Linked DNA regions of Homo sapiens: regions 1 and 2 are each linked to region 3. The links come from fine-mapping of genetic effects on gene expression. A gene starts in region 3. Each other region holds a variant in brackets. All regions are shown on one strand. Distances are from middle to middle. Region 1 holds the start of LOC105375079 (a long non-coding RNA gene). Region 2 has its middle 30 kb from the start of ENPP5. Region 3 holds the start of ENPP5 (ectonucleotide pyrophosphatase/phosphodiesterase family member 5).

Evidence for each region. PIP is the estimated chance that this variant, and not a neighbour inherited with it, causes the effect.
Region 1: its variant is fine-mapped to the expression of ENPP5 in fibroblasts (GTEx, PIP 0.97). The same link has a PIP of 0.9 or more in aorta.
Region 2: its variant is fine-mapped to the expression of ENPP5 in tibial nerve (GTEx, PIP above 0.99).

The regions. Positions count from the first base shown.
Region 1 is chr6:46,210,327-46,220,099 of GRCh38, forward strand. LOC105375079 (a long non-coding RNA gene) reads left to right here and starts at 8,979. Exons shown (of 5, transcript XR_001743802.3): 1 at 8,979-9,024. The variant A/C (reference allele first, on the strand shown) is at 7,421.
Region 2 is chr6:46,196,288-46,206,540 of GRCh38, forward strand. It overlaps the pseudogene ACTG1P9. Among named protein-coding and RNA genes, the nearest start is that of ENPP5, 30 kb to the left of the region's middle. The variant C/T (reference allele first, on the strand shown) is at 5,530.
Region 3 is chr6:46,166,081-46,176,333 of GRCh38, forward strand. It overlaps ENPP5 (ectonucleotide pyrophosphatase/phosphodiesterase family member 5), which reads right to left and starts at 4,900. Exons shown (of 5, transcript NM_001290072.2): 1 at 4,728-4,900; 2 at 3,973-4,034; 3 at 1,354-2,217. The coding sequence starts at 2,182. RefSeq lists a silencer at 5,072-5,131.

The DNA of each region.
Region 1 (9,773 bases), 44 kb after region 3:
AGACTTAAGGTCCAACTAGTAGATATCCTTCGAATAATAGGAGGGAACAGTGAGATAGATATAGGGGAGGAAAGTTTCAAATAAGCTGTTTGGTATGGTTTCCTGTGTCCCTACCTAAATATCATCTTGAGTCATAATAAACAGCACATGGGAAGGGCAGGGCGAAGTGGAGATAATTGAATCATAGGGGTGGTTTCTCCCATACTGTTCTCATGGTAGCACATAAGTCTCAAAAGATCTGATGGTTTTATAAATGGGAGTTTCCCTGCACAAGTTCTCTTTTGCGTTCCGCTGTGTAAGACGTGCCTTTGCTTCTCCTTTGGCTTTCACCATGATTGTGGGGCCTTCCCAGCCATGTTGAATGGTGAGTCCATTAAACCTCTTTCCTTCATAAATTACCCAGTTGGGTATGTCTTTGTTTGCAGCACGCGAATGAACTAATACACTCTCTTCAAGAAAAATGTCCACAATGGAAGGATATGAATTTCTAGGTTGAAAGGACTTATAAGAAATCAAATACATGAAACTCAGAGCAGTTGAGACAAAGCAGCCCTAAAAGCTTCCAGGAGAAAATACAGTTTACGTAAAAGGGTCAGAATTTAGAATGACATAGGCCTTCTAGAAGCTGGAAAGCAATGGAGTGATGCCATCAAAACCCTGAATAAATTTCCACAAACCAACTATTATGTGAGTGTGAAGGTGCAATAAAGACATTTTCAAACATGCAAGATCTTGTAAAACTTACCTTCCATGCTCCACTTCTTCAGTGAAGATACTGGGAAATATGCTCCATCATAACTAGGAAGTAAACTTTTTTTCTCATTCATGTGTTCAGTGGAGGTCAGGTATGATTACGGAGGCTCTGATGGGCTCCCCAAATCCCATTAGGAGTCCTTACCAGGTAAGACAAGTCCTAGGAATTTGGCCTTGGGGCAATTCTGCAAATAGGGCCAGCAATAGTGATGATGATGGGCTCAATTGGCTCCAACTCTTTCTAATGCATATCTTTAACTTCCTGCCACTTCTTTTTATATTTATTGACTCTAAGCTTGAATTGCCTCTTAGACGCAGCTGGAAAGAATCCTCCCATATCCACTGTAGCCTTCATCTCTCCATGTCATCTGTTGAGGCTGTGTCATTTCTAGCTTCTCTGTTAGACTTCTTTCTGCATTCCAGAAGTGACTTAGATTTTCTAGACAGCTGTTGATATGCTTTATTGGGTTGCAGGGCTATTATATATATTTCCTTTGATGACCTTCTGTGTAATTTCCAGGAGATTTCTGGGGATTGGATGGGCAATAAATATATGTCCTTCATCTACCATTTTAAACAGAAACTCATAGACAGCAGATTTTGCCCTTCCCCCGTATTTACACATACTGCGTTGCTGATTAACTAAGGCTCTCAAACTTCTATTATCTCTTCTCCAAACTCTTCTCTTTCTCCCTGTGCATTTACATTTTTAAAACAAACAGTGACTGGGCATGGTGGCTCATACCTGTAATCCCAGCATTTTCAGAGGCTGAGGCAGGAGGATCACTTGAGCCTAGGAGTTGTCTAGCCTGGGCAACATAGTAAGACCCCATCTTTACAAATAAAATACAAAAAATTAGCCCGGTGTGGTGGTGCACACCTGTAGTGCCAGCTACCTTGGAGGGGCTGAGGTGGGAGAATCCCTTGAACCTAGGAGGTTGAGGCTTCAGTGAGCTGTGATCACACCACTGGACTCCACCCTGGGTGACAGAGTGAGGCCCTGTCTCAGTAAATAAATAAATAAATAAATAAATAAATAAATAAATAAATAAATAAATAAATACAGGACTTTACATATGTATCTATTATGTTTTCTTTTTTTTTTCCATTCCAGTGGATTCCACTGTCTTATTAAAAGCCCAAATTATTCTTTTTTTTTTATTATACTTCAAGTTTTAGGGTACATGTGCACATTGTGCAAGTTAGTTACATATGTATACATGTACCATGCTGGTGCGCTACACCCACTAACTCGTCATCTAGCATTAGGTATATCTCCAAATGCTATCCCTCCCCCCTCCCCCCACCCCACCACAGTCCCCAGAGTGTGATGTTCCCCTTCCTATGTCCATGTGATCTCATTGTTCAATTCCCACCTATGAGTGAGAATATGCGGTGTTTGGTTTTTTGTTCTTGCGAGAGTTTACTGAGAATGATGATTTCCAATTTCATCCATGTCCCTACAAAGGACATGAACTCATCATTTTTTATGGCTACATAGTATTCCATGGTGTATATGTGCCACATTTTCTTAATCCAGTCTATCATTGTTGGACATTTGGGTTGGTTCCAAGTCTTTGCTATTGTGAATAGTGCCGCAATAAACATACATGTGCATGTGTCTTTATAGCAGCAAGATTTATAGTCCTTTGGGTATATACCCAGTAATGGGATGGCTGGGTCAAATGGTATTTCTAGTTCTAGATCCCTGAGGAATCGCCACACTGAATTCCGCAATGGTTGAACTAGTTTACAGTCCCACCAACAGTGTAAAAGTGTTCCTATTTCTCCACATCCTCTCCAGCACCTGTTGTTTCCTGACTTTTTAATGATTGCCATTCTAACTGGTGTGAGATGGTATCTCATTGTGGTTTTGATTTGCATTTCTCTGATGGCCAGTGATGGTGAGCATTTTTTCATGTGTTTTTTGGTTGCATAAATGTCTTCTTTTGAGAAGTGTCTGTTCATGTCCTTCGCCCACTTTTTGATGGGGTTGTTTGTTTTATTCTTGTAAATTTGTTTGAGTTCATTGTAGATTCTGGATATTAGCCCTTTGTCAGATGAGTAGGTTGCGAAAATTTTCTCCCATTTTGTAGGTTGCCTGTTCACTCTGATGGTAGTTTCTTTTGCTGTGCAGAAGCTCTTTAGTTTAATTAGATCCCATTTGTCAATTTTGGCTTTTGTTGCCATTGCTTTTGGTGTTTTGGACATGAAGTCCTTGCCCATGCCTATGTCCTGAATGGTGATGCCTAGGTTTTCTTCTAGAGTTTTTATGGTTTTAGGTCTAACGTTTAAGTCTTTAATCCATCTTGAATTGATTTTTGTATAAGGTGTAAGGAAGGGATCCAGTTTCAGCTTTCTACATATGGCTAGCCAGTTTTCCCAGCACCATTTATGAAATAGGGAAACCTTTCCCCATTGCTTGTTTTTCTCAGGTTTGTCAAAGATCAGACAGTTGTAGATATGCGGCATTATTTCTGAGGGCTCTGTTCTGTTCCATTGATGTATATCTCTGTTTTGGTACCAGTACCATGCTGTTTTGGTTACTGTAGCCTTGTAGTATAGTTTGAAGTCAGGTAGTGTGATGCCTCCAGCTTTGTAGGCCATTACATAATGGTAAAGGGATCAATTCACCAAGAAGAGCTAACTATCCTAAATATATATGCACCCAATACAGGAGCACCCAGATTCATAAAGCAAGTCCTGAGTGACCTACAAAGAGACTTAGACTCCCACACATTAATAATGGGAGACTTTAACACCCCACTGTCAACATTAGACAGATCAACGAGACAGAAAGTCAACAAGGATACCCAGGAATTGAACTCAGCTCTGCACCAAGCAGACCTAATAGACATCTACAGAACTCTCCACCCCAAATCAACAGAATATACATTTTTTTCAGCACCACACCACACCTATTCCAAAATTGACCACATAGTTGGAAGTAAAGCTCTCCTCAGCAAATGTAAAAGAACAGAAATTATAACAAACTATCTCTCAGACCACAGTGCAATCAAACTAGAACTCAGGATTAAGAATCTCACTCAAAACCGCTCAACTACATGGAAACTGAACAACCTGCTCCTGAATGACTACTGGGTACATAACGAAATGAAGGCAGAAATAAAGATGTTCTTTGAAACCAACGAGAACAAAGACACAACATACCAGAATCTCTGGGACGCATTCAAAGCAGTGTGTAGAGGGAAATTTATACCACTAAATGCCCACAAGAGAAAGCAGGAAAGATCCAAAATTGACACCCTAACATCACAATTAAAAGAACTAGAAAAGCAAGAGCAAACACATTCAAAAGCTAGCAGAAGGCAAGAAATAACTAAAATCAGAGCAGATCTGAAGGAAATAGAGACACAAAAAAATGCTTCAAAAAATTCATGAATCCAGGAGCTGGTTTTTTGAAAGGATCAACAAAATTGATAGACCGCTAGCAAGACTAATAAAGAAAAAAAGAGAGAAGAATCAAATAGACACAATAAAAAATGATAAAGGGGATATCACCACCGATCCCACAGAAATATTATGTTTTCTTTATTTTTCAGTCAGCCACTCAGTGGAGAGTGAAGAAACCCCACTTAAGCTTGTTTGAGGAAGAGGAAAATCTGTTGCTTCAGGCATCTGAAAAGTCCAGGGGATATGAGTATCAGGTATAGTTTGGTCTAGGCACTCAAATAATAACATTAAACTCACTTCCCATCCCTCTTCTTCTCTTTCAGCATTTCAGCTCTTCTTTTCTCCTGATTGCCTTCATTCTCAGGGAAAGATTATCCACATGGCAGCTTCTGGCACTAATGCCTGTCTGAGACCATCCTGTTACTCCCAGTAAAGCTAGGAGTGGCTATTCTCAGAACACTGGTGTACTCCTGGAATAATTGCCTTTCTGGAAATCACATTGTAGCTTATTCAGAAGCACTTTTAATAGAGATATTTGGAATGACCCTGGGCGGAAGTTTATCAGAACCTGGAGCATAGCAGCAATACCTGGAGATTCTATCGAAAACAGCAAGGCCAGCACAGTGGGTAAGAATGGACTGTGGACAGGAACAGAGGAGGAAGCTCAGTCAAATGAATTGCTGGGGGAAGGAAAATTATATGCTTTGAGCACTTTTTTTTGATGGGCATTTCATACACAGAGGCAGTTAAAAGTATGTGCTCTGCAATCATAGCCCTGCTGGGGATATATTAGGCGGTTGATCTTGAGTGCTTCTTAAACTTTAAAGTACTGGGAATCAAGGGAGGATCTTGTTAAAAGGCAGATTCTGTTTCAGTAGGCCAGGGGTGGCGCTTGAGACTCTGCGTCTCTAACCAGCTCCACGGGGGATGCAGATACTCCCGGGATGCAGATGCAGATGCTGCAGTGCGTAGAACATGCTTTGAGTACCAAGGACTTAGCTTTTCTGGGCTTTAGTTGCCTTACATGTAAAATGTGGGTATCAGTGCCTTCATCATAAGAGCATAGAGAGAATTAAATAAGAATGTAAAGAACTTGGCCAGGTGCAGTGGCTCAAGCCTGTAATCGCAGCAGTTCCGGAGGCCGAGGAGGGCGGATCACCTGAAGTTGGGAGTTCAAGAGCAGCCTGACCAACATGGTGAAACCCCATTTCTTCTAAAAAATATAAAATTAGCTGGGCATGGTGGCACATGCCTGTAATCCCAGCTACTTGGGGAGGCTGAGGCAGGAAAATCTCTTGAACCTGGGAGGCGGAGGTTGCGGTGAGCTGAGATCACACCATTGCACTCCAGCCTGGGCAACAAGAACAAAAGTCCGTCTCAAAAAAAAAAAAAAAAAAAAGAATGTAAAGAACTTTTAAGAGCTCTTGACACGGTGTAAGCACTCAAAAAATGCTGACTATTCTTTCTGAAGAATGGAAACAGTGAAGGTGCCATCATGAAGACTGAGGGTACAAATGCCAGGTGCTCTGTGTGGGGCCTGATGCATAAAGAGCTCTGGGTGAGGACTTCCTATGTACCCAGCACTTGATACTCTTTCTCATTCAATCCCTCCTAACTCTCTGAGACAGATACTATCATCCTTTACTTTTGATAAATGTGGAAACCAAAACTTAGGTTTAAAAAAACTGTCCAAGACCACAAGTTTACCAAGCAGCAGAGCTGGGGTTTAAACCTAGGTCTTGTGGCAGCAAAACTTGTGAATGTAGTTATTAACCGGCCCTCCAATAATAATTGTTACTGTTATTATCTTATTAAGTCCTCATGACAAAAGTGGATTTTTATGCCCATTTTACAGGAGAGGAAACTGAGTTGTAGGGACTATAGTAACTTGTCTAAAGTCGCTTGCACAATCTTCATCCCTTTCTCATATACAAGGTTGACAGGGAGGTGGTGACATCTTTTGAGGTGGCCTGAGGGTGGCACATGGGCCAGAATTTGGGTTCTACCCTCCCTGTTATAGACCCGTGTTTTTCATGAAGGCTCCTGACAACAGCTGAACAGGCATCCATTGTCCTCCTCACTCCACAGGGATGGTTGAGAGAAGCCCTCCTTTCTCCACTGAGGAACTTTGTGCCAAGTCACCTGCACGTCTACCCTACCTACCCCTGACCTGAACTCAGCAGGACAGCACAAAGAAAGCATGAAGAACTTTGCTGCACTGCTTTTGGAAAATATGCTAACCCCTAGCATAACCAATCCATCTTAAGAATGAAACAGCAGCGATTGATGGAAAAGAGTTGTACAATTCCGGGGCGCTCAAAGTGATGGAAGAAGCTATTGAGGATGATGTAAGTGTCAGGTTAGTTTTTCTAGGACTTAGACTCTGAGAGGGAGATGTACATGCAGGAGGTTTACTAGGGAGACTTTAGAGTCCTTACCTGTTGGGGATAAAGGCAGAGTTGAACTGAAATACCGGGCCTCAGCCTATCCCACAGGGATAGCTCTGGAGCTGGAGTGGCCCAAGGGAAGGCCTTCCTTGACTAGTCACTGGATGCAGGCTGTCCCTGAGGAGGGTGAGACCTTGGGTGGGGAGCATCTCTCCAGCTGAGTGCAATGCCTGGCCACTCAGCAGCGAGTCATGACCCACCAACCTTCCTAACATCTGGGGGCATGAGTGTTTCCACTCTGAAGTGGGGAGCTGGGACTCTGAAGTGGGGAGCTGGGACTCTGAAGTGGGGAACTGGGACTACAGCATCCACAACAGCACATCAGATGGATTATCAAGGTGTTGAACTTGGCAGCTTTGTACGGAAACTATAAATCTTGTTTTAAGAATAAAATACCCTACTGGCAAATCCAAAGATTGTTTGGGGAACAGTAATGATTTTCCTAATGATAGCAACTAGTCAAGGAGGCCCCATAGTCCTGTCCAACCCTAAAAGTTTTCTAACTCAATTATTGGTTGAGAATGGAAAATAACACAAAAGCACCAAGGAGGTATTGTGGATGAATTTTTTAGCACAAAGTGTTTCATCCATTTCTGCCTATTTTGGATTTCCTATTTCCAACCTGTACCAAATGTGCTTGCGTACACATACACACGACTAACCTTAAATATGGCTTCCTTTTAGAGACATAAAAAGCTCATGAATCAACTCCAAAAACATTTGCCCAGACTTTCTTTGAAAGGTGCAGATGAATGAGCTTGACAGAAAACTTTTTGCTTGAAATTTTCCCTTTCTCAGATTGCATA[A/C]ATTTAAGGGGAAAGGCTGCCAAATGTTCAATGACGCTCAGCGTGGTGGCTTCTGGCAGGGACACTCTGTACCAGCAGCTAAATGAATGTTTCCCTGAATCACTGACTGACTTATCATCCTTTATCACCTGCTCTGTTCCCCTTTTTCTGCATTGAGGCTTTCTAAATGACGTGGGGAGGGGAAGTAAAAAAAAACTTTAGAACCACAAGACACTGCATATTGATGTTGGATATTGAGAATTCTTCTGGTGTTAATAGATAGGATTGCAGTGAGGAGCACGAGGCTATCAAAAGCTATCTTCAAGCCTAATGTGGGCAAGACCCGTCAAGCCCCAGTGCTACAGAGGATCTGGACATTTTGGGCTGTAGCTTTGTATTAGGAAACTTCTTGTTTGTGTTAGGATTTACCAATGAATTGGGTCATATAATTCCCTTTTTGAAACCCTTAAAATGAACTCAAACCCCCTAGCCTGGCCTATTAATAATAGGTTCTACTGAGCCTGCCTTCCTCCGCCACCTGCCTTCCAACCTCATCCTAAACTGTGCTCACCCTCACTCCCTGTGCCTCAGCCATACCAACAAAATCCTTCAGGCTCCTCCAACACGACAAGACAAGGCCTTTCCAGAGTCACAGCCTTCAGCCCTGCTGCCTGGAATGCTTTTCTCGCAGCATTTCCATGGCCAGTGCCTCCAGGTCGGCTTAAATGTTACCTCTTTAGAGAGGCCTTCCCTGACTATGATCCTCCACTTTTATTCTCTATTCTCATAGAGTACTTTTGGTTTTCTTCACTGTACTTACCTATGAGAATTTGTGGCCATTATTTGCTTGTTTATTTCTTATCTCTTTTCCATGCTAGACTCCACTCCCTGAAATGGCAGGGACAAAAGCTACCTTGTTCACCACTGAAAACCCAGTGTCAGGCACACAGTTTGTTACTTGAATGAACAGTGTTTCACCCAGAGCCTAAGTCCTGTGCTCTCTCATTTAAAAAGGAACACTTATTTATAGATTTTTAAATGAAGGCTTTGAAAATATGGAAATATCTCACAGACATGAGATGGGAGACGTACGTTTTTAGTATGAGGACATTCTAAACCCCCATCACAACTAATGGCTCCTTCTTCTCTGTCCTCAGGGAGAACAGCTTTTGTTTTAGTTGAGGTATAACTTACTGTAGTATATGGCACACATTTTAACTGAATTTTACATGGGTATACATCCATATGGAGATCAGGATCGAGATGTAGAATATTGATGGCACATTGGAAGGCTTCCACATGAGAGGGTTCCTCTCAGGCAGTACCATTCAAAAGGTAGCCACTGTACTGTGACAGGTCCCCCAACAGGTTACCGAAGGGTATAAGTCTGTTGCCTGAACTCTGAGGGCCGGACAGTGAGCCAAGACCCTGGTGCCGAGCTGAGGAGCAGGTGTCCCTGAGAAGCCAAACCTCCCAGAGAGTTTCTGAGGAACTACCAAGAAAAACAGTCTCATTGTTCAAACACGTAGGCAAAGAGCCAGGAAATTAGCTTAAAAGCAGTTTATGGATGGGAGGTGGGGCAGATCTCCAGAGCTATCCTGCCGCCATCCCAGAGTGCCCCGTATGTAAGTCCTAATAAACTCATCTACTCCTCATGCTGGACTTAGGTCTGAGTCCTTCTTTGGACTCTTAGCACTTTTTTTAGTTTGGGGGTGGTGTTGGGGGACCTTACAGTCCTAAGTGTTTTCATAATAGCCACTATTATTTCTATTTATATAGGCCAGTTTTGACTTTCTTAGCTTGCTAAAAGGAGTCATATACTATGTATTTTTTTCATGTCTAGTTTTTCTTTTTTGCTCAAAATATGATTTTGCGATCTATTCATGTTCATATATGTACCACTAGTTTATGTGTCTTATTGCTTTGTGACATTCCTTTGTGTGAGGATAGCACAGTTTATTCTATAGTTGAAGGACATTTGGGCTGTATCCAGTTAATGGCTATGATGAACAACTTTGCTAGGGACATTATTGTACAAGTATTTTGATAGATGTGTGCACTTGTATCTGCTAGGTGCATGCCCTGGAGTGAATTGCTCCCAGAGGCATGTTAGCTTTAGCAGATATTACCAAACAGTGCTGTGAAGTGAGCACCAGTTGACACTCCACCAGTGGTGCATGACAGTTCCCCTTCCTTCATATCCTTACCAGAACTTTTTATTTCTCCAGACTTAATTTTAGTCATTCTGATAGATCTGTGTAGTAGCTCTGAGATTATCATTTGCTTTTGTCAGATAAGCAATAAAATTGAGCATCTTTTGAATGCTAATGGGTCATCTGGGTATTTTGTGTATGTCTGTGTGTATGTGAATTGC
Region 2 (10,253 bases), 30 kb after region 3:
AGGCTGAACAATGTTCCCCCAAAAGATATCCACATCCTAATCCCTGTGTATTAGTCTGTTTTCACACTACTGATAAAGACATACCCAAGACTGGGCAATTTACCAAAAAAAAAAAAAAAATGGTTTAATGGACTTAAAGTTCCACGTGGCTGGGGAGGCCTCACAAACATGGTGGAAGGTGAAAGGCACATCTCACATGGTAGAAGACAAGAGAAGGGAGCTTGTACAGGGAAACTCCCCCTTATAATAACCATCAGATCTTGTGAGACTTACTCACTATCATGAGAACAGCACAGGAAAGACCTGCTCCCATGATTCAATTACCTCCCACTGGGTCCCTCTTACAACACGTGGGAATTCAAGATGAGATTTGGGTGGGGATACAGCCAAACCATATCATTCCACCTCTGGCCCCTCCCAAATCTCATGTCCACACATTTCAAAACCAATCATGCCTTCCCAACAGTTCCACAAAGTCTTAAGACATTTCGGCATTAACTCAAAAGTCCACAGACCAAAGTCTCATCAGAGACAAGGCAAGTTCCTTCCACCTATGAGCCTGCAAAATCAAAAGCGACTTAGTTACTTCCTAGATATAATGGGGATACAGGCATTTGGTAAATACAGCCATTCCAAATGGGATAAATAGGCCAAAACAAAGGGGCTACAGGCCCCATGCAAGTCTGAAATTTAGCAGGGTAGTCAAATGTTAAAGCTCCAAAATGATCTCCTTTGACTCCATGTCTCATATCCAGGTTATGCTGTTGCAAGAGGTGGGTTCCCATGGTTTTGGGCAGCTCAGCCCCTGTGGCTTTGCAGGGTACAGTCTCCCTCTTGGCTGCTTTCATGGAATGGTGTTGAGTGTCTGCAGCTTTTCCAGGCACATGGTGCAAACTGTTTGTGGATCTGCCATTCTGGGGTCTGGGGGATGGTGGCCCTCTTCTCACAGCTCCACTAGGTGGTGCCCCAATAGGGACTCTGTGTGGGCATTCTGACCCCACATTTCCCTTCCAAACTGCCCTACAGAGGTTCTCCATGAGAGCCCCACCTCTGCAGCAAACTTCTGGACATCCAGGTGTTTCCGTACATCCTCTGAAATCTAGGTGGAGGTTCCCAAACCTCAATTTTTGACTGCTGTGTACCAGCAGGCTCAACACTTCGTGGAAGCTGCCAAGGTTTGGGGCTTCCACCCTCTGAAGCAACAGCCTCAGTTGTACCTTGGCCCCTTTTAGCCATGACTGGAGCAGCTGGGACACAGGGCACCAAGTCCCTAGGCTGCACACAGCACAGGGACCCTGGGCCCAGCCCATGAAACCCTTTTTTCTTTCTAGGCCTCTAGGCCTGTGATCAGAGGGGCTGCCATGAAGATCTCTGACATGGCTGGAGGCATTTTCCCCACTGTCTTGGAAATTAACATTTGACTCCTCGTTTCTGATGCAAATTTCTGCAGCTGGCTTGAATTTCTCCTCAGAAAATGGGATTTTTTTTTTCTATTGCATTGTCAGGCTGCAAATTTTTCAAACATTTATGCTCTTCTTTCCTTATAAAACTGAGGGCCTTTAACAGAACCCAAGTCACCTCTTGAATGCTTTGTTCCTTAGAAATTTCTTCTGCCAGATACCTTAAATCATCTCTCTCCAGTTCAAGTTCCATAAATCTCTAGGGCAGGGGAAAAATGCCACCTGCCTCTTTGCTAAAACATAACAAGAGTCACCTTTGCTACAGTTCCCTAGTTCCTCATCTCCATCTCAGACCACCTCAGCCTGGACTTCGTTGTTCATATCACTATCAGCATTTTTGTCAAAGCCATTCAACAAGTATCTAGGAAGTTCCAGACTTTCCCACATTTTCCTATCTTCTTCTGAGCCCTCCAAACTGTTCCAACATCTGCCTATTACCCAGTTCCAAAGTCGCTTCCACATTTTCAGGTATCTTCAGCAACATCCCACTCTACTGGTACCAATTTACTGTACTAGTCCGTTTTCATGCTGCTGATAAAGATGTACCTGAGACTGGGCGATTTACAAAAAAAAGAAGGTTTAATGGACTTGCAGTTTCACGTGGCTGGGGAGTCCTCACAATCATGGTGGAAGGTAGAAAGCATGTCTCACATGGTGGCAGACAAGAGAAGAAAGCTTGTGCAGGGAAACTCCCCTTTGTAATAACCATCAGATCTCCTGAGACTTACTATCACAACAATAGCATGGGAAATACCTGCCCCCATGATTCAACTACCTCCCATCAGATCCCTCCCACAACATGCGGGAATTCAAGATGAGATTTTGGTGGGGACACAGCCAAACCATATCACCCTGGTAATTGGCAATGTTATTTTATATGGCAAAAAGGGAGTTTGCAGAAGTGATTAAGGATCTTGAGATGGCGAGGTTATCCTGGGTTATCTGAGTGGTCCCTATATGCTATCACAAGTATTTTTTTGGGGTGTGTTTGTTTTTTGAAATGGAGTCTTGTTCTGTCGCCAGGCTGGAGTGCAGTGGTGTGATCTTGGCTCACTGCAACCACTGCCTCCTGGGTTCAAGCAATTCCCTTACCTCAGACTCCCACGTAGCTGGGACTACAGGTGCATGCCACCATGCCCAGCTAATTATTTATCGCAAGTATCTTTACAAAAAGGAGGCAGAGGAAGATTTGAGACACAGAAGAGAGAAGGCAATGTTACCACAGACACATAAATTAGAGTGATGTAGACACTAAGCAATGCCTACTGCCATAAGAAGCTGCAAGAGGCAAGGCATGGGCCCCAGAGGGAGTGCGGCCCTGCTAACACCTCGATTTGGACCCAGTGATACTGACTTTGGATGTCTGTCCTTCAGAATTGTGAGAAAATAAACATCTGTTGGTTTAAGCCGCCAAGTTGGTGGTAATTTGTTATATCAGCCATTGTAAACTAAAGTGGAATGAAATGGGGCATCTCTTTGCCAGTGTTTCCATTTACAGAGAGAAAACCTTTTCCAAAAATCCACTATAGACTTCACGGATGCTTAGGAAATAAGTATCTGGCAATTTTAGCCTCTAACTATTCTGCAAGCAAGGAAAAAATATGGTGTAATAGTTTTGGGAAAAGCAACCAATTGTGTCTTCCGTGATAGCAAATAAAGTGACCAATTCACAGACAGTAGGAGGGAGATGGAACTGGAACATATCATTCTGGCCAAATCCCAAAGTCAAGCATTGGAACCTACTGAATTTAAGAGTTGACTGCACTCTTACAGTGAACAGTTTCACCAGCATCAGGGTATCACATTGTCTTTTCTACCAAGTGAGTCAGTGTTCTTTTGTGAGGACACAGATAGAGGCACTGCCAAGGAAACAGGCCACGTTTCCCTGGGATAAGTTCTTACGCAACTTGGGTAAGAACGCAAGGAAGCACACAAGCAAAGGAATACTTTTTTCTGGAGGTGGAGATTCCTTAGCAACCTTTAACCACCACAGCATTCTATCTTCTGACTCTTGGTTCCGTCTTTTGGGATGCTGTCCACATGCAAAGGAGGTGTATTCTCAGCTTTCTGCTCCTCTATGGATGGCTTCCCTGAAATTCCAATTTCTAATTCACACAAAGATAGTCATCTAGAGGATCTTCCTGTTGGCTATTCACCAGTTGATTTGGGGGAGAAGGGAACTCTTTTGTTTTGCATTCAGAGTTTAGTGCTTGTGTGAGTATTTGCCTCCCTTTTATACTAACTAAGCTGGCTGAAGACCTGAAGGCTCTGGAAGAGCTCAGTTTCTGCTGCAAAGAGAGGGAGAAGCCCTGCTAGGAGATCCCTATACTTAGAGCGTTTGTTTGAGTTAAACATCTTTCAAATTTGAGTAGTAGTTCTACACTCAAGTATATGTCTCTCTTTTTTTCTTTATTATTTAAAAAAAATGTGGAAGGTTTTGGCTTTGGCTTACAGAGTGTTCTAAAACACAAAATCTTGTCATCTGGAAAATGCCTCTTTTTGCTACTCTTAAATAGGAATAAATTTGAAAGGAACCCACACAGAGACCACCAAGTGATGTGATGGCTCTTTGTTGCCCCCAAAATTCACAGGCAAATGCTTCTGCTGACCCACAACTTGGGACCAGTGAGGATTTAAATCTACTACTTATGGGATTGTAATTCTCCTACTGGGCTGTTAATCTGATTGTTTATTAAAGCTCTGCTGACTTGTTCGTTTAATGTATTCGACATACTGGGCCCTTAACTTCAATATACAGCACTGGCTACATTTCAAGTGTCTAATAGCTACAGGTGGCTAGTGGCCGTTGCAGTTCTAGAGTCAGTCCATTGCTGTATCATCTGCACATTAGTAAGTCTCAAGATAACATTTTCAGCCAGGTATTGGCACTTACAGGCAGGAGTATAGACCAGATATTTTGCAGAAGGTAAGTTTTCACTGGGCCCTTAACTTACATTGGATAGACACTTATCTACTTTGTATATTGCCTGTCTGATATCTCTATGTATATATATATATATATGTCTTTTATGATCCTGAAATATCCCGCTTGAGAATTCTTAGGAAGAGACAGAATGTGGGAGAAAGTCACATAATAAATGTATGCTTGAGGGCAACGTCTAAGATCAATACTGTAAGAACTTTAGCCTGGGCACAGTGGCTCACACCTATAATCCCAGCATTTTAGGAGACCGAGACGGAAGACTGTTTGAAATCAGGAGCTTGAAGTCAGCCTGAGCAACATGGTAAGACCCCAACTCTATTAAAAACAAACAAACAAGCAAAAAAACTAGTTAGTGCAGTGGCTTGTGCTATAATTTCAGCTACTTAGGAGGTTGGAGAATCATTTGAGCCGAGGAGTTTAACACTGCAGTAAGCTATGATCACGCCACTCCACTCCAGCTTGGGCAACAGCATGAGACCCCATCTCTAAAAATAAAAATACCAAATAAAACTTTGGACACCAAGGGCTGATGTTCTACATGGTTATATCTCTATATTTCTCTCCTTCCTCTTTTGTTTGTTGTCTCTTTCTGAAGTTATGCCTCTTTTTAGTATTGCTACCTTTCTTCTTCTTACTACTTCTTTGACATAATATTGGAGCCTGGAATATCTGGGGCTGCTTTCACTGTTAGGGATGCACTTTTTAGGTAAACATAGTACATTAGCAAGAAGAACAGAGAACATTAGAGAGGCCACATAATTTTTCTGAATTTACACTATATAAAAAGTTATCCAGTGTGTAAAGAGACAGGATTTCAAACCTTGAGTTGACAGAGGTTATGATCTTGGCCAAAATTTATGGACTTAAAATTTCAGATATTTGACTTCTAGGCTACTGACAAATATATCTGTTAGGAGTGCTTTCAGCTGCAAATAACAGAATTCCTGATCAACAGTAGCTTAAACATGGAGAGGTTTCATGTTCTTAGGTAACAAGGAGCCTTCAGGTAACTGAATGCTGGCATTGGTTCTGCTGTTTGACAGAATCCTCAGGGATTCCACTCCACCATCCTTAGTGTACTCACGTTCAACTAAATGCTTGCTACCTCATGGACACAGATGGTTG[C/T]TGACACAGCAGACACTGAATCTTTGTTCAAGGAAGAAAGATGTTCTCATCAGAAAAACAAAAGCTTTTCGAGAACTCTGTCCCCTGGGAAGCCCCAGCTACAAGAGAGGCTGGGAAAATGAGTAATTAGCTTCTTAGTCTCTGAAGTGGACAATGTAAGAGAGAAGACACTATTGAGTTAGTGAGCAAACGATGACAGCCATAATGTGGTTCTCTAACAGCTGATATAGTAGCTAACATATATAGAGGGCTTGTGGGATGTAAGATATACAAGCGTTTCACAGATGTAATTTCCTCTGATCCTCACAACAATTCCTTGATTTATGCCTACTATTATTATCCCTCCATTCTTAGTTGAGAAAACTATATCTTAGAGATGCCAATTAATTTACCCAAATCACATGGAAATTCCCTTGTTGCGTTACCCTATCTCCATAATGACCAAATAGCTACCCTTATTCATAGATTCCCTTCCACATAATTTATACTTTTTTTGAAATACATGCTTAATATTTTACTCCATAAAGGCAGAGTGATGGAGAGGAAGGAGTCGGGTAACTTGGTTTCTGGCTTGAGAAATTCTGATAGTATGGCTCATTCCCTGAGAAAGGAAGGGTAGTTTTTGGCAGACATTATGTACATCCCATGTCAGGTGGGTTTAATAGAGGGTACCTATTGGTCATCGAAGTGGCTCATGTTAAGAGGTGTCTGGAGTGCAGGAGAAATTTCATAGAATTGACCTATGTTGTCTAGGAGATTGATGATCACAGCCAAACCAGTATCACCTTCCTAAAACTTCCTTTTCTTAAGAAATAAGAAAGTAAGCAGAAGAGATGTAGGGATGAGTAATGGATACAAGTGGCTTCTTTTCTGCTCACCAATACTGTGGGAGGAAGTTTCTGAGACAGCCCCGATTATGCCTGCCTCCTGATATCCCTGATTATGTCTGCCTCCTTGCATATGAACCTACTCTTCCTTGAGTGGTCTGGACTTGTGACTTGCTTCTGATTAATAGGATAACAACAAAGGTGATGAGCTATCATTTCCATAATTATGTTACAAGCATGTAACCTCTGTCTCATTAGCAGATTTTCTCTATTTGTCTTCTTGGCTTTCATGCTTTGGTGAAGGAAATAGCCATGTTCAAGAGCCCCATGTAGCAAGAAGAGGTTCATGTGGCAAGGATCTTAGGGTGGCTGTTGGCTGACAGCTAGCAAAGAACTGAGGCCCTCAGTCCAGCAGCCTTTGAGGAACAGAATTCTGCCAACAACCTGAGTGAGCTTGGAAGTGGATCCTTCCCCAGCCAAGCTTTCAGATGAGACCCTAGCCCTGGTCACCAATATGATTGTATCCTTGTGAAAGACCCTGAAGTAGGGGGCCCAGCTCAGTTGGATTCCTGACCCACAGATGTGGAGATAATAAATGTGTGTTGTTGAAACCATTATACTATGGTAATTTATTAAATGGCAATAGATAACACATACAAACACCCAGAGTTTAGTTGAGGGATCAGGGGATAGGCCCATGTGGCCATTAGCTGGGGTATATGCTTACCTAATTCAAAAGTCAAAGGAGAGCAGACTATCTTTTATGATTCTGAAATACAGAAGGGAGATTGCTTATATTTGGAAATAAATTACCTGGTTGGTCAATTAAAACCAGAACTGAGAATCAAAGCATTTGATTCACTGGAGAAAAGAGAAAACCCTGAGAGGAATGCAGTTATATTTAGAGCAGCCTCTGAGCAGCAACAGCTGGTGTCTGAATGAGGCCAGCACATCTTATGGGAGTGGTATATGAGCCTCGGGAGGCAGATAAACATTAGACATAACCATGAAGCAAAAGGCTGTAGATGGTGCTGAGGAAGCCAGGGAATCAAGGGGTGTATCATGGGAAGTTGTAGATTTTCCTCTACTGGAATCCATAAAGAATAAGGGATCTTGTAAAATAACTTTTAAAAAATTCAAAATAGTGATTACAATCATTCAGTGTTCCTGTTCTGTGAGCAATTTCCTTTCTTTCCTTTCTCCTCTTCTATTTTACAGTAGCCATTGACACTTTTTACATTAATCTACTCAGGCTTTCATAATAAAATACCACAGTCTAGGTATTATGCAAGACAAAAATTTACTTTCTTGCAGTTCTGGAGGTGAGAAGTCCAAGATCAAGGTGCCTTCAGGGTGAGGCTCCAGTGAAGCCTGTCTTCCTGGCTTTCCAGAGGCTGCTTCCTAGCTGTTTCCTCACACAGCCTTTTCTCTCTGTGTATGTGGAAAGAGAGCAGTCTCTGGCATCTCTTTTCTTCTTCTTCTTCTTCTTTTTTTTTTTTTTTTGAGAAGGAGTCTCGCTGTGTCACCCAGGCTGGAGTGCAGTGGCGTGATCTCAGCTCACTACAACCTCTGCCTCCTGGGTTCACACCATTCTCCTGCCTCTGCCTCCCTAGTAGCTGGGACTACAGGTGCCCACGACCATGTCTGGTAAATTTTTTGTATTTTTAGTAGAGACAGCGTTTCACCGTGTTAGCCAGGATGGTCTTGATCTCCTGACATTGCGATCTGTCCACCTCAGCCTCCCAAAGTGCTGGGATTACAGGTGTGAGCCACCAGCACCCAGCCTCTTCCTCTTCTTATAAGGACACCAGTTCTACTGGGTTAAGGCCCCACCCTTATGACCCCATTTAGCATTAATTACCTACCAAAAGGCCCTGTCTCCACATATAGTCCCATTGGGGGTTATGGCTTCAACATATGAATTTGGGGTTGGAGGTGGATATAATTCAGTCTGTAGTATTTCCTAACCACTAAATGCCTATAAAATGTAAGCTCAGTAAGGGCAGGGACTTGGGCTGTGTTTTTCACTGAGCTGTCTTATCTTTCCAAGGCCTGTTACAGTGCCTGGCACAGGCACATAGTAGACCCTCAATAAATGTTTGTTGAATGAATGAACGATGGTCTCTTCTCTCTGATGCTCTGAGATGGAGGAAATCGCTGAGAACAGATCAGGTAATGAGGCATTTTTTTTTTCCATAAGAGGTAGAAAGTTTTTATGTAGTGTTGTATAAAATATTTTTCAGTTTTATGATAAGATTTATAAAGATGCTCAGTCGTCACCACCAGCACGTGCACCATGTCCTCCCGCTGCTGCGTGCTCCTCTGCCAGTGGCAATGGAAGAAGAGATCCCCGCGCTCTTCATTGACAATGGCTCCGGCATGTGAAAAGCAGCTTTGCTGGGACAATGCCCTCCGAGCCATATTCCCCTCCATCATCGGGCACCCCCGGCACCAGGGCGTGATGGTGGGCATGGGCCAGAAGGACTCCTACGTGGGCGACCAGGCCCAGAGCAAGTGCGGCATCCTGACCCTGAAGTACCCCATCAAGCATGGCATCGTCACAAACTGGGACGACATGGAGAAGATCTGGCACCATGTTTTCTACAACGAGCTGTGCGTGGCCCTGGAGGAGCAGGTGGTGCTGCTGACCGAGGCCCCGCTAAACCCCAGGGCCAATAGGGAGAAGATGACTCAGATCATGTTTAAGACCTTCAACACCCAGGCCATGTACGTGGCCATTCAGGCCGTGCTGACCCTCCACAGCTCTGGTTGCACCACTGGCATTGTCATGGACTCTGGAGATGGGGTCACCCACACAGTGCCCATCTACGAGCGCCACACCCTCCCTCACACCATCTTGCATCTGGACCTGGCTGGCCAGGACCTTACTGACTACCTCATGAAGATCCCTACCTAGCGCAGCTATAGCTTCAACACCATGGCCAAGTGGAAAATCGTGCGCAACATCAAGGAGAAGCTATGCTATGTCGCTCTGGACTTCGAGTAGGAGATGGCCACTGCTGCATCCTCCTCCTCCCTGGAGAAGAGCTACGAGCTGCCTGACAGCCAGGCCATCATTATTAGCAATGAGCGGTTCCGGTGTCCGAGGCACTGTTCCAGCCTTCCTTCCTGGGCATGGAATCCTGTGGCATCCATGAAAGTACCTTCAACTCCATCATGAAGTGTGATATGGACATCCCCAAAGACCTGTACGCCAACACAGTGCTGTCTGGCGTCACCACCATGTACCCTGGCATCCCCAATAGGATGCAGAAGGAGATCACTGCCCTGGCATCCAGCACCATGAAGATCAAGATATCGTGCCCCCAGAGTGCAAGTACTTTGTGTGGATCGGTGGCTCCATCCTGGCCTCACTGTCCACCTTCCAGCAGATGTGGATTAGCAAGCAGGAGTACAACGAGTCGGGCCCCTCCATCATCCACCGCAAATGGACTGCGAGCAGATGCATAGCATTTGCTGCATGGGTTAATTCAGAAGTATAAATTTGCCCCTGGCAAATGCATATACCTCATGCTAGCCTCACGATACTGGAATAAGCCTTTGAAAAGAAACTGTCCTTGAAGCTTGTATCTGATATCAGCACTGGAGCATAGAACTTGTTGCTGATTTTGACTTTGTATTCCAGATAACTGTTGCCCTTGGTATTTGTTTAATACCCTGTACATATCTTTGATTTCACCCCTTAGTACACATGGCTTGGTCACTTCGTGGCTGAGGTAAGAATGTGCTTGTGGAAGACAAGTCTGTGGCTTTGTGAGTCTGCGTGGCCAGCAGTCTCTGATCTGTGCAGGGTATTAATGTGCCAGGGCTGTGTGTTCTGGGATTTCTCTAGAGGCTGGCAAGGGCTCCTGAACCAGTTGTTTCTGTCCTACCAGT
Region 3 (10,253 bases):
ATCCATTGCTGAGGTTGCATCCTTATCTTCTGCACCGCAACAAGAGGACATCATTCCAATTTTATAAAGGAAATCGAAGGGTTAATGTAATTTTCTCCCCTTCCATTTCCTCTTCCCTTCCCTCTTCCCTTCCTCCTTCCCTCCCTCCTCTCTCTCTCTTTCACCCCCTTCTCTTCCCTCCCTCTCTCTCTCTCTTTCCCCCTCAGTCTCTCTTTTTCTTTCTTTTTTTTCTTTCGACTGTGTCTCCCTGTCGCCCAAGGAGGAGTGCAGTGATATGATCATAGCTCACTGTAACCTAGAACTCCTGGGCTCAAGCAACCCTTCCACCTCAGCCTGGGACACAGGCATGTGTCACCACACCAGGCTATTTTTTTTTTTTTTTTTTTTAGCAACAGAGTCTTGCTATGTTGCCCAGGCTGGCCTCAAACTCCTGGCCTCAAGTGACCCTGCTGCCTCAGCCTCCCAAAGTGCTGAGATTATAGGCGTGAGCAACCACTCCTAGCTAATTTTCTTAAACCAGAAAAAAAGTGCTGTTTGCTGAAAACTGTGTGTGTAAAACACACACATATTTTAACATTCGCTGTTTCATATGATTCTAATTCCCCTCTGAGGGATGGAATTCTCATTTGTGAAATATTATAGCTTTTCAAAATCTGTTCTCTCATTTGATACCTAAGACCAACCCTGCAAAGTGATAAAATATGTCAAAGAGCATGTCTGAGTCATGTTGTCACTTATTTTGTGACCTCAGGATGTTAAACCTTTTGAGGTCACTTACCTGTCATTTACTTCTCTTTAAAATGGAGACAATACTGAGGTGACAGGTTTGGTATAAGGATTCCAGGAGAGGTTTGTAAAAAGTTTAAGGTATTGTTATTACTTTCCACATTTATAAGGAAAATAAACCTCAGATTGACCAAAGCTCTTTCTCCTTCTTATCTTCCACAGCTTCCTTGTTAAGCAGGTCCAAATTAGGAACCTATAAAAGGCTTTGGGGCTTCTATGAAATAACTGTACATGCATTCAAGTTTTGTATGTATCTTTCCATCTCAATTTTTCTGAGAAGGGAGGCTATAGCTTTCATAATATTCTATGGATCCAAAATGGTTAAAACCTACTGCCATACATACATAGAGCACATCAATTTCAGTATTCTAGGAAAAAGGAAAAAAAAATTAGGCTTTGAAAAAAGAGATTTTGTCTTTTCAGAGTCTGAGGATTAAATCCCAGAATATTACCATGACACAGGCAAAGTCTACTTTAAAGGCGCAGCAACAGAAATCCCTGTTCATTTGATCACACTGGGCAAATGCACATCTAGTCTCAGCTCACCATTCATTCAGTCAGCCTTACCTTCTTTTGGCAAGATGGCTGCTACTGGAGATTGATCAATCAGGGTATAGTGGTCTTTATCCAGGTACTGGTCAAGTTCTATTAACCTTTCCTCAGAGCACTGCGTCATTCCATGATCACTTGTGATGATTAGGTTCAGAGTGTTCCACAACTTTGCCTTTTTCAGCATTTGTATGAGATATCCTAACTTCTTGTCAATATCTGAAATGACAGGCCCCATGAGCGGACTGTCAGGTCCCAAATGGTGGCCCATGTCATCAGGGTCTTCCCAATAGAGAAGACCAAGATTTATGGGCTCTTTTGACGTAAACCATTCAATAATTTTGGCAACTCTATCTTCAAATGAAACTGACTCATTGTAAGGCATGTAATGAGTAGGAAAGCGCTTATGTATTTTTACATCTGTTCCGGGCCACATGGCTGCACCACTAGTATGTCCTGCCCTCTGGTTTGTGATCCATATTGGTGTCGCTTCTTCCCAAAACTTGGAATCATAAATATTCATGTGATCCAAGGAGAAAGATTTGTTCCGAATAGGATCAAACATATCATTTGCAACAATCCCATGATTCTCTGCAAAGAGGCCAGTTACCAAAGTATAATGGTTAGGGTAGGTTTTTGTAATAAAAACATTAGTAACTTGCTTCACGTGAACACCATATTTCATAATATAATGAAAATGGGGCGTTGGAACTTTATATAAGTAATCCCAACGGAATCCATCAAAAGAAACTAGTAGAACCTTTTGCTGGTCTGGTTGGAGAGAAAAGGTGGTTGAAAGACTCAGTGCAGCAAGTATGAAGGACACCAAGAGAAATTTCGAAGTCATTTTCAAAGTACTTGATCAGTTCAGTGTAAGATAATCTGTAGAATAAACATATAGAAATTAAAGGCAATAATTTTGTTTTGTATACTTTACCCCAAACTCAGAGTAACAGTGCTTAGCAATCCTAGTTATATTCATAAATCACAGCCTGGAAGAATTATGTCACAGAACTCCGTATTAGATAAGAGACCTGGGGCTAAATGAATAATAAAGCTAATAAGTTTAGCTGCATTTAAACAACTTTTTCACTTCTGAGAATTTATCTAAATATCCCTCAAAGGAATTATTTAAGTGAGCTCTTCAACAGCATTTTAAAATATGACATCATTTACATAAAACTTTTAGAAACATTTTCAGGTTGATCCAGACTTTTGACTTCTGGTCAGAAACTTTTTTATAGTCAAATACCTGTGAACATCCTTAACATTATGGCTAGAGCAACTATGGCAACCTAGCAACAATGAAGTATCATTAGCAAATCGAATAATGGTGCATATACATATATATTATATATATATGTATATGCACACTTCTATTTTCAACCCCTATGTTTGGTTAATCACAGACAAAAGATGTATTACTAAAGAGAGAGGAAAATAGATGAATTTGGTTTCTTGAAGTGAAATAACATTTGTGACATCCAGATATATTTATTGAAAAGTAATCTGCATTCATTTATTAATAATCAAATCACAGCATTCGTTGAACTAAATAATTAGATTCTAAACTAAATATTAACAGAAATATAATTCTGAAATTTGTTGTTGACTTTCCTAATGTTAAAATTTGTCAAAATTTAATCTTATCATTGATAGGTGTAGTAAAAGCACTTCCCTGGTTTAAAGCTCTGTGAATCAAGGTTGCTGGTCTTTTCCCCTAATCTGTGTATATTTCTAAAATACTTTCATTCTATTGAAGAAAGCTAATAAGACGCTGTATGGATAAACAATAGATATGTAAATTTTGTCAGTTTTCATCAGGCGTGCACATCCAGCAGGGATCTTTTGTTCTCTCATTTTTCTACCCATTCCTGCATGAAGGTATTTATAAACCCACCAAAACTTAGATCAAACCACACTTGTACAAATAAATCTCTTGAAACTGCCTTTTGATATCTTCCTAAGCTGAAGACTTCTTTTTTTTTTTTTTTTGAGAGGGAGTCTCACTCTGTTGCCCAAGCTGGTGTGCGGTGGCACGATCTCAGCTTACTGCAACTTCCGCCTTCCGTGTTCAAGCAATTCTCCTGCCTCAGTCTCCCAAGTAGCTGGGACTACAGGCGCCCGCCACCACACCCAGCTAATTTTTGTATTTTCAGTAGAGACAGGGTTTCGCCATGTTGGCCAGCCTGGTCTCAAAACTGCTGACCTCAGGTGATTCACCCTTCTCGGCTCCCCAAAGTGCTGGGATTACAGGCATGAGCCACCGCAGCCGGCCTGAAGACATTTTTAAACTTCAAAAATATATCCTGTTTCACCTTGCTGTATTATAGGTACAGGTAAATAAAAACTACTTGGCATGCTTGCTTTGCTTTCAGAAATACAAGGTATATGTACATTGTGGGTATTCGCTGAGGGCAATAAATTCTGTTTTGCTGGTTTTAAACTGTGTTTTCACCATACCTAGACATTTCTTAAACTGAAATTGTTTTAGGTATTGGTCTCAAGATGATAGCTCAAATGTCATATTTAAAAACGATTTCTTGGATGGCAATACTCTCTCTGATTCTGGAAGGAACATTAAACACAGTTGCAGCAAGGAATAGCAAATAGGTTACTGCAAATATATTTACTCACCTATCTGGCTATGGATGGTAGTTGCTCTCTCTGTCCTTTCTCCCCCTAATTTTCTCTCCCACCTTTTTAAAACAAGGAAGGCTAGTATCAACCAAATGTAATTTAAGGCTAAAAGCAGAGGAAATAAACTACATGGAACACCTCATTTTCATCTATCTTAGCAAATTAATTCGGCACATGTGTAAGCAGGAGAAAACTGCTTTCTTGGGACCAACAAAAGTAAGCAAAGATTAAGTGTTGTCTAAAGCTTAGGAATGTTTGGCAAGAAGACTCAACATCACATCCATGACACAGAGCAATAAACAGAGGTGGGGGGTGGGGAATGAAAACAATCAGAATTTTTTTTTTTTTCGTGCACAAAATGCTGCACAAAACAGTGGAATCCCTGGATCTGGCTCCACATTTCATTGAGTACTTTCCAGTTCTTTCTCCCCTCCAACCCTTCCTCCACAAACAGACTTGGAGAGCAGGAAGGACGGGGCACCGATTAAACGGAAGAGGGAAAGTGCAGAAGGAGTAGGTTTGTGTAGCTCGGGTAGACGTCAAGGGCGGGGGTGTCCATCTTCTCCACCAGGATTCCATCCTAGCCACCCAGAATGGTCGCGGCGTAGGTTATGTTCCCAATTCCCAGTCATCCCGCCCACCGAGGCCTGGGCTTCTTAGATGTGCAGTGGCAAGGAGGGGACGTTGCTTTAGGGACCCAGAGGAGCAGTGTGGGTTCCCGGGAGGGAAGCCACCCACGCCCCTGGACTCACCCTCGCAGCGATCCGTTCAGTCCGTATTAGTTTGGAGCAACGGGAGGGAGGGTCTGGAGGAGACTCCCTCGGGCGCGCCGCGGGTAACGGCGGGAGGGTGACTGGAGGAACGCCCCCGGAACGCGCAGGAGCTCACCTGCGCTCAACTCTGGAGCGGAGCACCTGACCGCGCCGCTTCCCCGCCCCGCCTCCTGGCTTCTATTGGCTGCTGCAGAGATAGTCACTTCTGCCTGGGTTGCCCCCGAAAGCCAGGCTCCCAGGAGTAGCTGCACGGCCTGTCAATCAGCGGGGGCAGGGGCGGGCGCTGCCTGGGTTTGGAGGGTGGAGGGGGAGGGGACTCCCGGGGGCAGGGACCCATCTGGTAGGGCGAAGGCGTGGGATGGCCAATTGCTTGGTCACACACAAAACCTTCCGGCAACGTGCCTTTTCCAGGGGACCAGCTGTGCTGGAGTCAGTGATGCTGAGAGATTATTGCGTGTTACCCCAATGGTGGGTGTACTCTAACAGTCACTGTTTTTTGTTTAAAAGCGACTTGTATTCTCTGATTTCTTATCCCAGGCTTTTTTCCTTCCCCCGCCCCCCGCCCCCTGCCTTGTCACGAATTGGCGATGGGGCACACCATGGGCTTTGCTCTGAGGAACACCTGCACACCCGAGGATGCCAATGGGACGATGAAGTTTCATTCTTTTTATTAGTGGGTGTTATCTGCTTTACCTCAGAAAGAATTTATTAACCTAGTCAACTCTGCAGCCCCAACGTTTGCAGTCCAGGTTTTTGCAATTGAGGTCCCTGAGGTATATTTGTGGTGTACCTAGCATGGCACCTGAAATTGTGCGAATTAAACCAAGACAGGTTCAGAATTAGGTTAATTTGCACAGGAGAGAGGCTGAACAGCCACCCTCTCTGGTGGTGGCATCCGAGCTCCAGACTCTGTTTCTACCTTTGTTTGCAAAGTAAACATTAAAACTACAAACATCAGGCCTGATTACTCTTTCAGAAAGCCTTCAGTGCTTCTTGTGTGTTAGTGCCCCTATTTTGTCTTTTTCCGTACTGTAGTGGATTATTTTCTCAGTTTTTTTGGGATAATCAATGGCATTTTTAGGCCTGAGGGAGTGTAGGCAGGTACTTAGTTTGCCAGTATGATCCCAACTGTCTTTACCATAAATTATAGCAGTGATATCAAACTACCCTGAAAGAATTTGTCCATCTACACAATCCCAGCTAGAATTCTGACCTAATTAGAATTCTAGTTCTATCTGCAGTAGGCAATAATATCAGGTTGATTGTTACAATGTAAGTTTAACATCTAATTAGCTGGTAAAACTGGGAGCATATCTGCAATGGTGGTTTTGGCTCCTGCCCGGAGCTCGGATCCCTTGTCTGGTGTGCTGGAGCTTTAAAGTGAATAGAGATATCTGTTGATATTTAATTAAGCCATGCAAACATTTTGGTCATAGCTTTTTCTCTGTCTGCTTCTAATAGAGGGACAATCTCAACCCCAAACATTGTTACCTCCTAACTGGGTCATCCCATCCCGAAGGGCATCTGGGCACTCTTCCATGGCCTTTTATTCGTGGTAACTTGAGTTTATGGTTTTCAACACGTGGGATGGGGATTAAGAGGGAGGCTGGTTTCTATGTTTAGTGAGACCCAAACACAATGAAGTTGAACAAGTTGTTCCAATTCCCCAAAGCCCTGTCCTTTGAAATTGCCCAAACTTGGAACAGAGTGGTCCAATCTTGTAAGTCCTTGTCCCCCAGAATAGGTCAACTCTGTGCTCTCCCAAAACACTCAAAGGACAATGTACGCTTATCAGAGAGCAGGAGTGGTGAAAATGGGCCTGACTTTTGTTCGGATCACTGAACATTGTTGGACTCTGTTTGGATGACAACCTGCTTTGCTCTGCAAATTTTATGGAAGTTATGATTATATTCACCAGCTATTCCTGTGAAATAGGCATGGTACAGCTGGTAACCACAGTGCACAACACAGAAAAGTGCTCATAAGACTGCCAGATTCCTCCCAGAAGTCCATATAATGATATCTAATGTTCACCTGATAGGCTTGCTATTACCTTATGTTGTTCATGGGGAGAAAGTCTGGTTTACATAGTATAGAGGAATGAATGTAAAACATGAGATTCCTGCTCCCACATCTGCACCTGCCCTCCTGTCTTATTGTTGCCTCAGTATCTGTCTATTTGCAATAGGTTTTCAGAAAGTTTTAGCAGCAGAAACCACAACCTGCTATTGACTGTAACTATTCTTTTATTCTCTGTTATTAAATTAGTGGAATTCTAATTGAATAATAGTGTAACAGAATAACCAACTTCTTTCTTTCAAAGGTTTTGGGGTCAGGTGGGGAGGGAGATCCCTCTGCCTCCCCAAGGAAGTCTAATACAGGTTGAGAGAGGGACAATTTTCTTCGTCAGGGGCTGGAAGAGCTTTGTGCTAAAACTGAAAAGGGATCTGTTCTTTAAGAAACAACCAGAACTGGCTCTACCACAGAAGTCTTGTTTTTCAGAACTAGACTTCATGATAGGAAAAATAAACACATAATTTTACAATTAAAAAATTTTAAAGGTGCATTCCAGTACATTATACCACAAATGACTAAACTAAAAGAAAGTTCATCTTTTAATCCTTTGTAGAACATTCTGCAAAATGTGGGTCTCACATATTCAATGGCCATAGATAGGAACCACTGGGATTCTGCTTCTGCACTGCTCTTAATTCATGATAAACAGTGGTCTTCACTAATCTTGACTCATTAGCAGAAGTTCAGTCCAATGAGTGAAATGTTGAATTATAGAATAGTCAAAAACTTAGCCCAAGAATTTTTATGCATATTAATAAATTAGGCTTCTAGTGATATGCTTGAACTAATTAGAATGAATTTTGTAGAAGCAATTATTATGCTTTTATCCTCAGAAAGCTTTATATAAGTCAAATATAAACCTATTTGTATTGTTGTATTCTGTAAATTGTATTCATAGTGTTTTAGTTCTAGGACTGCCTTAACAAATTATCACAAACTGGGTGACTTACGACAAACAGAAATGTATTCTCACATAGTTCTGGAGGTCAGAAGTCTGAAATCAAGATGTATTCAGGGCCATGCTCTCTCCGAGACTCTGAGAAGAATCCTTGCTTGGCCCTAACAGCTGCTGGGGATTCTGGTATTCCTTGGCTTGCTGCAGCCTAGCTCCAATCTCTGCCTCTCCTGTCACAGGATGCTCTACTCTGTGTGTCCCTGTGTCACGTGGCCTTCTTATAAGAACACCAGTCATTGGGATTAAGGCCCTCTTCAGCCCAGTATGGCTTCATCTAAATTTAATTACATATGCAAAGATCCTACTTCCAAATAAGGTCACATTCTGAGGTTCCGGGTGAATGTGTATTTCGGAAGGACACTTATTCAACCCAGTATATATAGCTAGCAGAAAGTTTAATTTTATGGCCCAGCCTAGATCAAAAGTTGATGGATTACTAATAAAATGGCTCAAATCAAGGTAACTGACAACATCTGATACTGACAAGGATTCAGAGCTATAATATATTGCTGGACTATCATACACTGCTGGTGGGAATGGACTTCCACTATGGAAGTCAGTTTTGAAGTTTCTTATAAAGTTAAATATACACGTGACATACAACCCAGGAATCTCACTCCTGAGTATTTATCTAAGAGAAATGAAGACAGACGTCCACTGAAAAACCGGTCAACAACTTTTTACAGCAGCTTTATTCATAATCATGTAAAGCTAGAAACCATCCAAATGTCCCTCAACTAGTGAATAAACAAATTGTAGTGTGTCCGTAAATGCAGTACTGTTTGGCAGTAAGAAGGAATACAGAACTCATGCATGCAACAACATGGATGAATCTCAAAAGCGTTTTTCTAGGTGAACGAAGCCAGACACAAATGGCCATACACTGTGTGATTCTGTTTATATGATATTCTAGAAAGGGCAACAATGGAAATAGAAACCAAATCAGCATTTGCCAAGGACTAGGGGTGAGGGGAGGGGATTGGCTAGAAAGGGGCACAAAGAATTTTTTTATGTGATAGAATTTTGATTGCTTTTGTAGTCACATCACTAAGTTTGTCAATATTCAGAGAACTATGTGCCTAAAAATGTTTAATTTTACTGTGTGGAAATTATACCTCAGTAAACAGCAGCAACAATAAATAAACCCTACCCTGCGATAATACCTCACACCTCACCAAAGTTCACAAATTGGTGCTGGTGGTGTTTGACTCTCAGTGGCCTTTCCTGTGTGTACGGGTGTATACCAGTTCTTCCTGCAGGGTGTGAGTGCTTGCAAGTGCAGGAGCTCCACGGGGCCTGCTCTGCTGGGTGTCATTCCTTTTCCCTCATGAATGAAGTCAGGAAACTATGAAGTAAAACCAAAACAAGGCTAAACAATTATTTTCTTTTTCTTTTCTTTCTTTCTTTCTTTTTCTTTTTCTTTTCTTTTTTTTTTTTTTTGGGATAGAGTCTTGCTCTGTCGCCCAGGCTGGAGTGCCGTGGTGTGATCTTGGCTCACTGCAACCTCTGCCTCCCAGATTCAAGCAATTCTCCTGCCTCAACCTCCCGAGTAGCTGGGATTACGGACACGCGCCACCACACCAGGCTAAATTTTTATATTTTGCGAATCACAAAGTCAGGAGTTCGAGACCAGCCTGGCCAACATGGTAAAACCCCGTCTCTACTACAAATATTTTCTAGGCCATAACTGAATGTCATTTGTTGAATAACTAACTCAGTGCAGGATGCAGTCATATAGCAGGAGAGATAGTCATCTTTTGGTGTTGGTTTGAGGCCTATTTTGTAAGACATATTCTCAGGAGCCAAATACGAAACTGCACATGTGTTTGTGGTATATGGGGTGAAAACATTTTGTTAAAACCACATTCTCAGTTCTTTGTAAAGCACATAACACCCCTTAGATGCCTGAACATACTTAGTTTAACATCACTATTTAAAAACTTATTGGCTCCTTATGGGTATTGTAATTCTGTAAATTTACTAGCAGTGGGGGAGGACCTAAAAATATTGTCCTCTATCCAGATCAAAAATACATTTTTCCACTCTAGGTATTTGCACTTAAAATGTAAATGTAAATATTCTTTGCAACAATTTTGTAGCTTGAGGTTGCACCAAGGAATTCTTTGGTAAGTGTGAATCTTTATGAACAGGCCAAGCAGGCAGCAAGTGCTTTATGCCTTTAAGGTGTTCTTGGCAGGGAAGGGGCGGGGGATGTCATGGGAGAGTTCTCCCTGCCCAATTCCTGGATGGTTGCAATTTCATAATTGGAAATTAATCTCTTAGCCTTAAGGCTTTTCTCTCAGGAGAGATGTCATATGCACCACCTCTATTAGCTATTTATATACACGTGTGTGACTAAGGTTGTCTGATTCGCTCCAATTTGCATAATTGGTTGGGGAGAAAAGCCCTTAGAAGAATGCAGGTGGGTTCTGTCTTTCAAAGGTTAGTAAATACAGGGGGCAGCTCTAGAGGAA